4 separate regions of the Homo sapiens genome follow, and regions 1, 3 and 4 are each reported to be linked to region 2. Evidence: microRNA targets listed by miRTarBase, many of them from high-throughput screens and not tested one by one. Region 2 holds a microRNA gene; each other region holds the end of a gene's coding sequence.
The links. Region 2 holds the annotated microRNA hsa-miR-5189-3p (UGCCAACCGUCAGAGCCCAGA, at 966-986, shown strand). A microRNA usually pairs through its seed, bases 2 to 8, with sites in the 3' UTR of a target mRNA and lowers its output. Matches are read on the target gene's strand: a 7mer-m8 pairs with bases 2 to 8, a 7mer-A1 pairs with bases 2 to 7 and ends in A, and an 8mer does both.

Region 1: miRTarBase lists KMT2A as a target of hsa-miR-5189-3p. Seed matches in the 3' UTR shown: 7mer-m8 at 2,451-2,457.
Region 3: miRTarBase lists SSX2IP as a target of hsa-miR-5189-3p. Seed matches in the 3' UTR shown: 7mer-A1 at 903-909.
Region 4: miRTarBase lists NOM1 as a target of hsa-miR-5189-3p. Seed matches in the 3' UTR shown: 7mer-A1 at 1,485-1,491.

What each region holds. Positions count from the first base shown.
Region 1 is chr11:118,521,862-118,524,994 of GRCh38, reverse strand. It overlaps KMT2A (lysine methyltransferase 2A), which reads right to left. Exons shown (of 36, transcript NM_001197104.2): 36 at 1-3,098. The coding sequence ends at 2,823. All of the region lies in intron 1 of TTC36-AS1 (TTC36 and KMT2A antisense RNA 1), which reads left to right. Among named protein-coding and RNA genes, the nearest start is that of TTC36, 4.0 kb to the left of the region's middle.
Region 2 is chr16:88,468,019-88,471,152 of GRCh38, forward strand. MIR5189 (microRNA 5189) reads left to right here and starts at 900; the gene lies at 900-1,013. The region is part of intron 1 of ZFPM1 (zinc finger protein, FOG family member 1); the gene reads left to right.
Region 3 is chr1:84,644,851-84,647,984 of GRCh38, reverse strand. It overlaps SSX2IP (SSX family member 2 interacting protein), which reads left to right. Exons shown (of 14, transcript NM_001166293.2): 14 at 378-3,134. The coding sequence ends at 552. Among named protein-coding and RNA genes, the nearest start is that of LINC01555, 11 kb to the right of the region's middle.
Region 4 is chr7:156,969,122-156,972,255 of GRCh38, forward strand. NOM1 (nucleolar protein with MIF4G domain 1) reads left to right here. Exons shown (of 11, transcript NM_138400.2): 10 at 1-75; 11 at 408-3,134. The coding sequence ends at 582. Among named protein-coding and RNA genes, the nearest start is that of NOM1, 21 kb to the left of the region's middle.

The DNA.
Region 1 (3,133 bases), not on the chromosome of region 2:
ATTTTTGTGGTTGACAATTAGGGGGTGGAAAGGCAAGGCAAACCATCTGCAGCTGGCAGGAGAAGGAAGCTGTGGGTTCCTCCCCTGTCCTCAGGGTTTAGGGTTGGTAGAGAGTGAGGAGGGGCTCACAGTACAGCATGGCCTAGCAGGGCAGTAACTAGGTCTATTTAGCTGAGTTCCCCCCACCCCCTGACTGGCCTTTGGGTCTTTCTCAAGGTGAATTCAGGACCCATCAGTGCATTAATCATTTCAGTAACAAATGCAGCTTAAGGTTTTTTTTTTTTCTTTAAAAAAAATAGGAATACAAGGATTTACAAAAAAACCTCACACAGTGCAATAATAAAGGAAAGCAGACACTAGTGGAACCCCTAGGGCCACTGCATCTTGTTCATGGGCAAAAGGAGGAAGGGAGGTGAGGTCTGGGTAGAGTGCTTTTCCCAGTCCCCTGCTGGCACTTCTCCATGATGACAAGGAAGTCTCTGCCATCCTGGCCACAGTGCTGGGCTCCCTGCATGACAGTGAAAACAGTGACAATGTTCCAGCAAAGCCACCAGACAAAGTTCTTAAGGTCACAGGAGAGAAGGGAGCCCAGGATGGAAGGCACAGCAGAGCCATGAGTCCTGGGGCAGAGAGTGCTGGGCTGAGTCGTATTGCTTTGCTAGACTTCCATAGGAATGGGCTTCTTGCGGCGAGAAAAGGGTGCCCCACCCTCTACTTGGACTACACTACTCTGAAACCTTGTGGCAGAGGCAGAGAAAAATCTGCTTTATCGTGAGTGGTCAGACTGTGCTTCAGTTTCAACAGGCTGCCCCAAAAGAGGGCACAAGGTGATCAATGGGTTCTCTGCAGATATGAGGACTTGGTGGGCAGAGGGAAAGGAAAGAGTGGCCTATGAGGCAGATGGTGATGCAAAAATGTCAAGTTGCCATTCAACTTGTTGTTTGCTAACTCTGAAGTAAGAAAGATGAGGGAAATGTAAAGATTGCCGTCTCCCACCACTCTGGAAGTTGCGCCGGAAAGGAGAGAGGCGGGAAAGAAGAGAATCTGTTGTATCAAGATATTACTGTAGCCTTTTGAGGAGCTTCAATAGGGGAAGGAGGGGAGTGGCCCAATGGAGTTGGGTGACCTTCCTTCTCCATTTATTGTCAAAGAGCAAACCCAGGAAACATTTATGTCAACAGGGCACAAACAAGCTACACATTAAACAACAAAAAGTACACCTTCCAGGGGGAAGTTGGGCAGGAAAAACCAGACTTTGTGTGTACAGCTGAATATTTTCTCTAACTTCATCCTATGAAAATAAAAAATTATTAAAAACCGATCTTCTTTTAAATTAGGATAATACCGCGGTTTAAAAAATAGCCTTGTCATAAGTGCTTCTCCCTATGAAGTGCTTCTCATAGAAAAATATACAAAATATATTTACATTTATAAAACCTTAAATAGTAAACTGTAAACAGAACAGAGTAAAATCCAATGACTTAATTTAACAGGTTCAGGACTCTGTCTTGGGGAAAGGAAGAGAAGAAACATTTGATGCTGTTTTGACCACATCCTAAGGAGTAATCAGGGCAGTAGTGTCATTGAATTTACTTTAGCTGTGGGTTGCACGCAGGTGGCAGAGTTCCCTCAACATAAGGTGGTCTAGTCCCCAAGTTGTGGGCCTTGAAATCTGATTAGTGTTCTGCCTTCAACTGGACACTGACCGTTTAAAAATTAAGTCTTCCTATGTCTTAACAAGGGGAAAATAAAGTAACCATGTCTTAGGAATGGGACCCAAGGGTCATCCTGGCTGTGATACTCTCGTTGTTGCATGATTTAAATCCTATTTAAATAATCTTTTTCCTCTCCTACAAAATCATGCTACATATGTTTCTTTAAAACTCTCCATGGAGCTTTATGAAAATGTTTCCAAATTCTGTCTGGTTATGACCAATGGCTCCTGTCCACTTCCCCACCTGGAGTGCTTACAGGCTCAGGGAACTTTTTGCAGGCACATCCTATGCCCAGCAGGGAGTGTCCTTGAGCAGGCAGTCAGTCTCCCCTACAACCCGAAAGAAGCATGGGAAAGCAGTGGCATGAAGACAGGGGAAAGGAAGAAAAGGGAGTGAAGAGGGAATGGGAGAGGGAAGCCGCTCCTACTGTCAAGAAAGGTAATTGGCTGAGATAAGGCTCCTGGGGGCAACACTCCCACTCAAAGCCTGCAGGCTCAATGTTTGGTAATTAATTGGCACAACCCCATGACAGCCTTTTGACACCGGAGGTGCTAGGAATCCTGTCTCCCAACCAGAAGTGAACTCTCGAGTGGGAGGATAGTAGGGAAAACCACCAGACCTCTGTTTGTTCGACAGACGCTGTAGGTGGGGCCTGGCTGGCAAACTGTCAGGAATCTAACCAACCCTCCATTTGGGGCTTTGCCTGACCCACTCACTTACAGTGCTTGGGAAAGGGCCAACCTGAGGATGGCAACTTATTTCTGTGGAGAAATTCAGGCCCAATCTCCCAACATAACCAACCCTCTATAATAGGCTCCTTCCAGGCAAGTCTGCTAGGGACCCCATTCCCACTTTCTAACAGTAAACAATTGGAGGGGCCCCAGGAGAAAGCCGATCATGGATCTTTTCTTCGAGACCTCAACTCTGTCTCTGGGACTATGATCACATGTCTGATGTGAGTATAGGACATAAGAGAGCTCAGCCATCACAGAGGCCCCTCAGCTGTGCCACGCAATCCGGGAGCTCCCAGCTGCTGGAAAAGGCCTTCAGCGTTGCTTTGGATGGCCCCGCCTCCTTGCACTCCAACACTGGGGGAGAAGAGCAGCTTTAGTTTAGGAACTTCCGGCATTTCTTGGCGCCACAGTTGCAGGGCAGCTTGTTGCTGGCATCCTCAATGGGGAACTTATAGTCGTAAGTGAGTTCCTCTCCTCGGTAGATCTTACGCATGGCAAAGATGACAATGTGCTTCTGCCCATCAATATTGATGACCCGAGAATAGCAGTTAGGCTCACACGAGTGATTGATGAAGCGTGCAGCATTTCCATGCATGGTGGCATCCACTACCTCTGAGTCATCAATTCGGAACATATAGCAACCAATGCCCTGCACATGCAGAAGAAGGGAGAAGAACTTGTCAT
Region 2 (3,134 bases):
CACACACCCGCGAGCCCACCGCCCCTCACGCCCCCGCGAGCCCACCGCCCCGACCCACCCGCGAGCCCACCGGCCGCTGACGCACCTGCGAGCCCACCGCCCCTCACGCACCCGCGAGCCCACTGCCCCTGACCCACCCGCGAGCCCACAGGCCCTGACGCACCCGCGAGCCCACCGCCCCTCAAGCACCCGCGAGCCCACCGCCCCTCAAGCACCCGCGAGCCCACCGTCCCGACGCACCCGCGAGCCCACTGCCTGCGGCGCACAGAGCCACCAGATCTAGAGGGAGAGCTGAGCACTCGGGGTGCTCTGAAAGTCATCATCATCATCATTTTGCAAAGAAAGCCCCCAAATAGCCCTCCCTGAAACAAGGCAGCCAAAAATAAGAAGTCGCTCTCAACAGGCCCCCACAGGAGAAAAGAGGCCGGCCTTGGAGAGGGGTTGGGACTTGGGGCCAGGTCCCAGCTGTGCCGGCCTCTTGGCTGTACGACCTTGGACCAGTATCTTTCCCACTCAGAGTCATCCCTGAATGGATGTCAGGGAGCCTTCGAGGAAAGGGGAGAGCCTGCACTGTAACTGAAGCCCCCCACCAGCCCCATGCAGCTTTCTGACCCTAGACTTGGGGCTGGGACCAGTCACCCAGAATCTGATACCCCCAGGGCCCCGCCCCCCAGAGCCCCACCCCCATGGCCAGGGCACCACTGTCCTAACCAGCCTGTTGGCAGCCAATGGAAATGGGGTATGCAAATGAGCAGGGGTGAGGCCCAGGGATTGGCTGAGCTGCTGTGTGGGGGCAGGGCCTCCTCCAGGGGCTGCCCTTGACCTGGGGGAGTAGTTCCCATCCTGGACCCTGCCCCAGGACGGGAGACCTCTGCCACCACCACCACCGGCTCTGGAAGGGCCCGCCTTTTAGGGGCCTCGCTGTCTGGGCACAGGCGGATGGACAGGCTGGCCTCTGGATGACCTGCCAACCGTCAGAGCCCAGACCCACGTGGCCTCAGTTGGGGACCAGGACCCAGGAGTTCCCGAGAGGAGTGCAGCCAGCAGCCACTCCCAGATGGGAACAGCGAGTTTCACAACCCGGCAGGGACGGCCCTGGGGCCAGCCAGCCTCCCACCCCCATGTCTGGGCCCACTCCAGACCCTCCTGCAGGCTGCCCCCCACCGCTCCACCCTCTCCCCGCGCTGACTTCCATCCGGAACCTCATTCTGCCAAGCTTCTGAAGTGCCGGCCGGGCCAGGGACGTGGCACCATCTTAATGAATGACAGTCCCAACCCCTTTGCCCACCCTCAGCCTCCCCATCTGTAAAACCGGAAGGCGGTCTAGTAGGTCTGCCTCCCAGGATGGTTTCTGGGCTCTTCAGCAAGCCCCTTGCCGGCCTGGGCCTCAGTTTCCCCTTCCACACCATGAGGCTGAGGTGGCAGGTTCTCTGGGGGTCCTCCTGTCTGTGGCTGTGGCATAGCCTGGAAACCTGGGGTCTTCCAGATTTCCCATTGTCAGAAATTCATGTGCCAGGAGACCATGTCTACAGGGGGCTTAGGACACCTTAGGGGGCATGCACCTGTGTTCTGCATCCACCCACACTGCACAGTGGGTCTTGCTGGCAAGACCAGGATGAGGCAGGCTCCGCCGGCCTGAGACCTGGCTGGAGGCCCTGTCAGCTCCCACGGCACCTGAAAATCAGCCACAGGTGTGGGTGTTTGTCAAAAATGTGTAAGTGGAAAATAGTGGCGGGGCGAGGAGAGAAAGAGTCTGGGCTGAGATCTAAGGAGAGGAAGTAGGGAGGGGCCGTCCGACCAGAACCAGACATCACCTTGGCCAGGGCCCCACCCCCTAACGTGGGGTGCAGTGCCTCTCACGTGGTGAGGGTCAGAGGTGCGTGCCCAGCCCAGAGGATCTCCCCACGCAGCCCTCCCAGTCTGCAGAGGGGTCTCCACACATGCAGGCAGCTCTGTCCTCTCCCAGGACAGCTTGGGGCATACAGTAGGTGCTCCATAAATACTCCCCAGCTGATTTCTGGATCTGCTCCCTGTGCCTGGCTGTGTCCCCAGAGGCAAAGCAAGCAGAAGGAAAAAGGAAACGGAGAAAAAGCCAGGGCCTCCAGAGCCAGCATTGTCCTGGGCAAAGGCCCCTCCCGTGTAGGAGCATCGCCTGTGGAGAGCCACGGTCCTTGTCCCTGTGCTGGGGCTGTGACTCACTCCTGCGGGGTCCTTGCTGTCAGGGCCACCCCACCTGTCCTGGGGACAGGGCTGCTGGACGGGTTGGGGCGGGCAGCCTCTGGATGCCCACGGGTGTCCCCTGTACTCTCCAAACCTGTACTGAGTGCCTGCTGTGTGCTGGGCATGGTCCAGGGACCCCAGGTGACCTCATGGAACCCCAGCCTAACGAGGGAGAGTGAACACAGGGGTCTGACGTGCTCTGTGGCAGAACCACTGGGGAGGCTGTTGTTGGGGGACTGGTGGTGTGGAGGGCCGGGTGGTGACACTCAGTGACAGGTGAGGATGTGGCACGGTGTGGAGGGCCGGGTGGTGACGCTGAGTGACAGGTGAGGATGTGGCACGGTGTGGAGGGCCGGGTGGTGACGCTGAGTGACAGGTGAGGATGTGGCACGGTGTGGAGGGCCGGGTGGTGACGCTGAGTGACAGGTGAGGATGTGGCACGGTGTGGAGGGCCGGGTGGTGACGCTGAGTGACAGGTGAGGATGTGGCACGGTGTGGAGGGCCGGGTGGTGACGCTGAGTGACACGTGAGGATGTGGCACGGTGTGGAGGGCCGGGTGGTGACGCTGAGTGACAGGTGAGGATGTGGCACGGTGTGGAGGGCCGGGTGGTGACGCTGAGTGACAGGTGAGGATGTGGCATAGGGAAACACATCCTCGCCGAGCGCACAGTGGGAGCTCCGAGCAGGGGATGAGGTCGTCCAGGAAGGGGCGGGAGACGCAGCGTGACGCACTGACCCAGGGCCCAGCTCAGATGCCAGTACCTCACCCGGTGGGGTCCAGCCTCCGCGACAGGCATTCCCTTCCCCGTGTGCCCTTGCCAACTACATACTGGGCTGCCCAGAGGCTGCCTTCTGAAGGAGCGAGGGGGCCGGGAGGAGGAAAGCCCAGCTCCCCTGCAGCCATGATAGATAGA
Region 3 (3,134 bases), not on the chromosome of region 2:
TACTATAAGTATTGGTAAATAAATTTATAGTAATTTGGTCATCAGAATCCCTTGTACAAATGATTAAACTAGGCATGCACTACTACTCCCAGCTAATTTTTTGTAGAGACAGGGTTTCACCATGTTACTCAGGCTAGTCCTGAATTCCTGGGCTCAAGCAGTTCGGCTGCCTCAGCCTCCCAAAGTGCTAGGATTACAAGTGTGAGCTACTGCTCCCAGCCGTTTTTTTTTTCCAAGTAAAATTTTAAATTATATTTTTGGCCTAGATTTTTAGAATTAAAAGGAACTTATTTTTTTTGAAGAGTGCCACATTATGAGGTTAAAGTACAAAAGAAGGAGAGGATAGTCACTAAGATCTGCCTTTCTTTTCCCAACAGTTCAATCAATGTACTGAATATAACTGCTGAAGAAATTAAACCAAATCAGGTTGGAGGAGAATGTACAAATCAAAAATGGAGTGTGGCATCAAGACCTGGATCACAGGAAGGTTGCTATAGTGGATGCTCCTTGAGCTACACAAATTCTCATGTAGAAAAAGATGACTTACCTTAGACATGTGGACTGGAATTTTTTTCATTAATGTGTTCATCAAGTTTCACATCTAAGTTGAAACAGGGTGTGTCATAAAGTCAGTTATCTCTAATAACTTAAGATGGTCTGAGTTGTTTGTTTGGACTTCCCTGTCTTCCCCCAAAGAGTTGAAATCTTAAATCTATTTAAAAGGATATAAAAGCTTTGGATATGTATTTTTAGTAACAGAAGCATCTGGTTCTGTGAATAAAGGAATGTATAGATGTTTGGATGGAAACAAAAGCACTAGACTGAGTTTCCTCTTATAGGTATTAAAAATAGCACTTTTAGGAAACTGATTATTGTAAATGTTTAATTTTGTCTCAAATATAGTTGGCATTGGAAGTTTAGCCTTTACTTGAATGTATACTGTAGATTTTTAACAAAGCGAGTTCTATATTTATTATGTTTAGTGTGGTTTGAAATTACCTCTTTCATATGTTTTAAATAAAGTGAAATTTATGTATGTTTTGTACATAGATACACATGATTATGTTAAGAGGCTTTAAGATTTAAAAGTTTCACACAACCATAAGTATAGTATTTCATGCCAGTAAAATTTTTTTAGTGGTATTCTGTTTACAGATGTATTAGGACCATTGATGCATTACATTTAAGAATTCTCTTTAATACATCTGGGCAATAAATATTGAAAGGTATTCCATGAAGCTGAGTTCTTTAGATAATCAACACTACTAACATTACATTTTTGAGATTTTTATGACATTAGATTTTTATTTTGTATATGTAGAATATTATAATTTTTAAAAGGACTATTGATGATAGAAGAATAGGGGCAAGACGACAAAAGTACCTTTGAATAAAACAATTTAAGAAATTGGTTTAAGATATTGGATGATAGAAGATATTTAAGATATCTAGATGGTGATATTTTCCTTACAAGATGGGTACCAGTATAGTAATATCTGTATACTAACTAGGGCTTTGTATTGTCAATAATTTTTTAATAATTTTTTAATGAGGTATTTACCACTGAAGAAATATGATAATATAAAACCATCAAATTTTATAATTGAGATGATACTCTGGAAAAACATGTCATTTCATTTTCAGAAAACTCTTAAGCTCTCTTCAGTCTCTGTAATGTTTCTGATTGCATGTTTCTTCATGAAAAGTATGTTGTTGTTTTGATAGTAATAATAATAAATGTAGGCTCAGCTCTTTCCCAGGATTTTCATCAAAAAGCTTTAAGTGCCTAACCCTGCTTGTCTCTGTACATAGAAGCCTGCACAGATCCAACCCTTGCTAGGTATCATAGTTTAGGCCCATTTACCTTCCCCTGTACTGGCAGTTCAGCCGCTTACATGCACTCACCCTGTTTGTGGCTATTTTAAATTCATATTATTAAAAAACAAAAAAAACCCACCTATTTGTGTTGTCCATTCACTATACGTAACTATGTAACTCTTTGGAGTTGCATAGCAGCAGCCATTTTTTCAGGGCTGATAGGATATCATTAAGAGTGTCTTATGAGACATTAGTGGATATACTCATAGTAACCATATTTATAGTTTTAAAGAGCTAGCTCTTGAGCATTAGTCACTACCTTCAGCTTGATGCATGGTCACTTCTTTACTATTTAAAATACTACACATTGTACAAAATATCGAAGACACTACCATATGCTAAAGGAAGAAATCTAGCTGGGATATAGGATTTTTGTTGTTTTTGTTTTTGTTTGTTTTGCTATTTAGCAATAACATGGTCAAAAAGGCAATCAGAAATTTTAAATACAGTTAATGGATACATTTGGCAACAATTTTCCCCCGAGGGTTTTCCATGGTGTACTTTGCAAGAAATAAGCACTCTAATTTTTAAAGTAAATCTCTTATTTTAGCAAATATTATATTTCATGACAATGGAGTTCTAGAAAGCAGCATCTGTTTTTTGTTGCGTGTTTCCATTTTAAAGTGAGTTGAGTTCTCAAATTGGAAAGAAAGATTCCTTGAGACGTACTTTTAAAATCTAAAGTGTGAAAGAAACAGCAGAGTAAAAGCCAGACTCATTGCACCTTCAATGTCTGCATAGATCCAGAAGTTGTACATTTTACCTAACAACATCACTTTTGTTGAACATTCCAACTCCAGAATGATCCCCAATCACCCTAATCTCAGAATGCTGGAATGATGTCTGTTGGAAAACCCAGGACTCCACACACAAAACTCCTGGGATTTTGTTTCCCATCTCTTTCTAGGTGTTTGCAATGTACAAATAATACAGCTGTGCTAATCTCACATTTAGCCATGATAGATGATGGTTCTAGAGTGTACTTCCATTTGTAAGTCCTCCTGATAAGTGCTTTCTTGTTTATCACTATGTAAATCTGAAATATTTTGTACTTCATTTGTTTTTATCCATTCTGAATTTTCAAAGCATAAAAATGTCAAAGAAAAATTGAGATAAACATTTTGTTCACCATTAAATGTTTGCATCTGCAGTCTATGATGAGAAACAATGAAATTATGACTAAAATTTAACAAATAGTATTTTCTTATAGAAGCAATGTATTAAATGATTAGATACACAGGACAGTTCACAGCAAA
Region 4 (3,134 bases), not on the chromosome of region 2:
CCGTTTTTTACGAAAAGTATTAAGTATCCTATTAATGGAAACAGAAGTTGAAGACCTCAGTTTAATTTTCACAAGGTATGTGCCCCACCCTTTCCGACGAGACATGGAAGAGAAATGAAGAGATTGTTTTCACTTGTGTTGATTTACAAACACAAGGTTGTACTATACGTGTAGCTTAATCTTTTCGGTTTTATTTTTAAGCTGGTATGCATTAGATCTGGGGAATAGAAACTTGTCTGCTAGCAAACTAACAATGATTGTTAATAATAAAATATGTTAAGAAGTTCTTAATTGAGAATTTTATTTTTAAAAGAAACTGGTTATGTCTCACTATGCGAGATACCCAGGATTGAGATCTAGGAGAGGCCAGCTCAGCCCTGACATGTGTTTATACGATTCCTTTCCAGAGTATCTGACAACCCAAAGCTGGGGGTGTTACGTGAGGGTTTGAAGCTTTTCATCAGCCACTTCTTGCTAAAGAACGCACAGGCCCACAGAAGCGCCGACGAAGCCAACGTGCTGAGAGAGAAAGCTGACCTTGCAACGAAGTGTCTGCAAGGAAAAGCTTCCCTGAGAATGTAGTCAGGGAAGGAAGGAGGGCAGGTGGCCCTTTGACTGTAAAATGTCCTTGGTAAACCCAAAGGCTTATTCTGTTGCCTGCGTGTGAATGTTTGGTAGAGCTATATCATTGTCTGTTAATGTATTATATTTTGAGATTTTTTTTGATCTAAGGTTTTATTGTTTGTATTTCAAGCCATTTTCAAATAACTATCTTGGGGGTGAGAGGAGAAGGAGGGAGGGAAAAGGGGTCAGGCACACTGGACAGGGTTCTCTAAGCAGTGAGGCTGGTGTGTATGATTGTCTTAAAATTTTTTAATAGATATGGCCGAGCGTGATGGCTCACCCCTGTAATCCCAGCACTTTGTGAGGCCAAGGTGGGCGGATCACTTGAGGCCAGGAATTTGAAACCAGCCTGGGCAAAACCCTGTCTCTACTAAAAATATAAAAATTAGCCAGGCATGATGGCACATGCTGGTAATAGCAGCTACTGAGGTGGCTGAGGCACAAGAATTGCTTGGACCCTGGAGGTAGAGGCTGCAGTGAGCCAAGATTGTACCACTGTACTCCAGCCTGGGCTGGACAGTGAGACTTTTGACAGTGAGACTGTCAAAAAAAAAAAAAAAATTAATAGATAAAACAGGCCACTAGAGGGTGCAGTTATAAAGAAATTGATGAGGTTTTTACCTTTTTAAAATATTGGTTAGAAGTTCAAAAACCATCCCTTAAAGGTGATTGTTTTTTTGAGACAGAGTCTTGCTCTGTCACCCAGAGTGGAGTGCAGTGTCCTGTAATCTCAGCTCACTGCAACCTCTACCTCCCGGGTTCAAGCGATTCTCCTGCCTCAGCCTCTTTAGCTGGGACTACAGGCGCACGCCACCACGCCCGGCTAATTTTTGTATTTTAGTAGAGATGGGTTTCACCATGTTGGCAAGGCTGGTCTTGAACTCCTGACCTCAGGTGATACACCCATCTCGGCCTCCCAAAGTGCTGGGATTACAGGCTTGAGCCACCACGCCCAGCTTAAATGTGATTCTTGATACTGTTTTAAGTATTTAGGTTGCAATTAACTTTGGCAAAGTCAGTCGACATAAGCCCTGTGGATATGGCCTTATGTACACTGTAATGCAGACAGGTGCTTTTCATCATTCATGTAACATTCTCACACAGTTGAGGATATTCATCTCCTCACCAATTCCAGATTGTAAATGTACCATCTTAAACAACTCTGAGGTCACCAAACAGTAGTTATTTGACTGTTAATAGGTGCTACTTGCTTGCAAGGATTTGGAGATGTAAACATGAAGAAAATATAGTTACTGCCTGCAAAGAATTAACATCCGTCTAGTGGGAGAAACAAACACACCCCACTCACTAAGTATGGAAAACTGATTCTGGGAGGAAGCAGAAATGTCCCTAGATAACAGCATGTATTGCAGATACCCAAATGTTTATTGTTTTCTCAGCCCTTCAATTTTGCTTTTCTCTCTCAAATGCTACAGACTCAATTTAAATCTTACCTTTGATTGTTGAAAAAAGTCACTAAGATGTGAATACAGAATAGACATTGAGAGGTTATATATGTCCAAAACTCATCTGTCCAGCAGTCACCGTCCTCTTCAGAGTGGTCACGTTGGGCAGATGGGCACAGGTGCTGGTGATGCCTCTCCTGGGCAAAACGCCCCATTTGTGGCACTTTCAGATACTATTTATTTACTTTTTAAGAGAGAGACAGGCTCACTCTGTCACCCAGGCCAGAGTGCAGTGGCACGATCATAGTTACCGCAGCATCAAATTCCTGGACTGAAGCGGTCCTTTTGCCTCAGCCTCGCGGATAGCTAGGACCACAAGCAGTAGAGACAAGATCTCCGTATGTTATACAGGCTGGCCTCAAGTGATCCTCTTACCTTGGCCTCCCAAACACCGGGATTATAGGCGTGAGCCCCCGTGCCTGGCCTCAAATTTTATTTTAGCTCGACCCTATGGCAGTTTGTGTTTGGAAATCGTGATGTGAAGTCATCAGTATCTGTGCATATCCCTAAACTAATGGTTTAAGCTTTGAAGCATGCGCAAGCAACATGAACAACTGAATACAGAAAGTAACTGAAAGCAGCACAGAGACTGTGTCGTCCCTACAGACTTCTAACCCTGCATTCAGCAACATCATTCGACCCGAAGCCAGATTCAAACCCTATGTCTTCTAGCAGGTTCTGAATTTAGAGGACAAATAAGGTGACAGGTACTAAGAGAAGAGTGAATTAAGTGAAAATCTTCCCTTTGTTAAGGAGCTTTTTAACAAGAGTGTCTTTGCTGGGTGGTGATTGGGATGTAACAGATCAGTTCTACTGGACTTGTAGCTTGATAGTGAAATAAGGAGCTTGGGCTAAGGTATAAATCAACACACTGCTTCCTTCCTCCAGAAGGTCTTACTGTGAAGGAAAAAATGTCAGTTGAACTAAATTGTGCTTCACGCCTCGGTAGATTTGCATTCTGATGCAAGCCCCCAACCTCACGGACCAAGAGGATCCCTGGCTGCCTGTGAATGGCCCACATTTGAGTGGTGCTAACTTGATGTG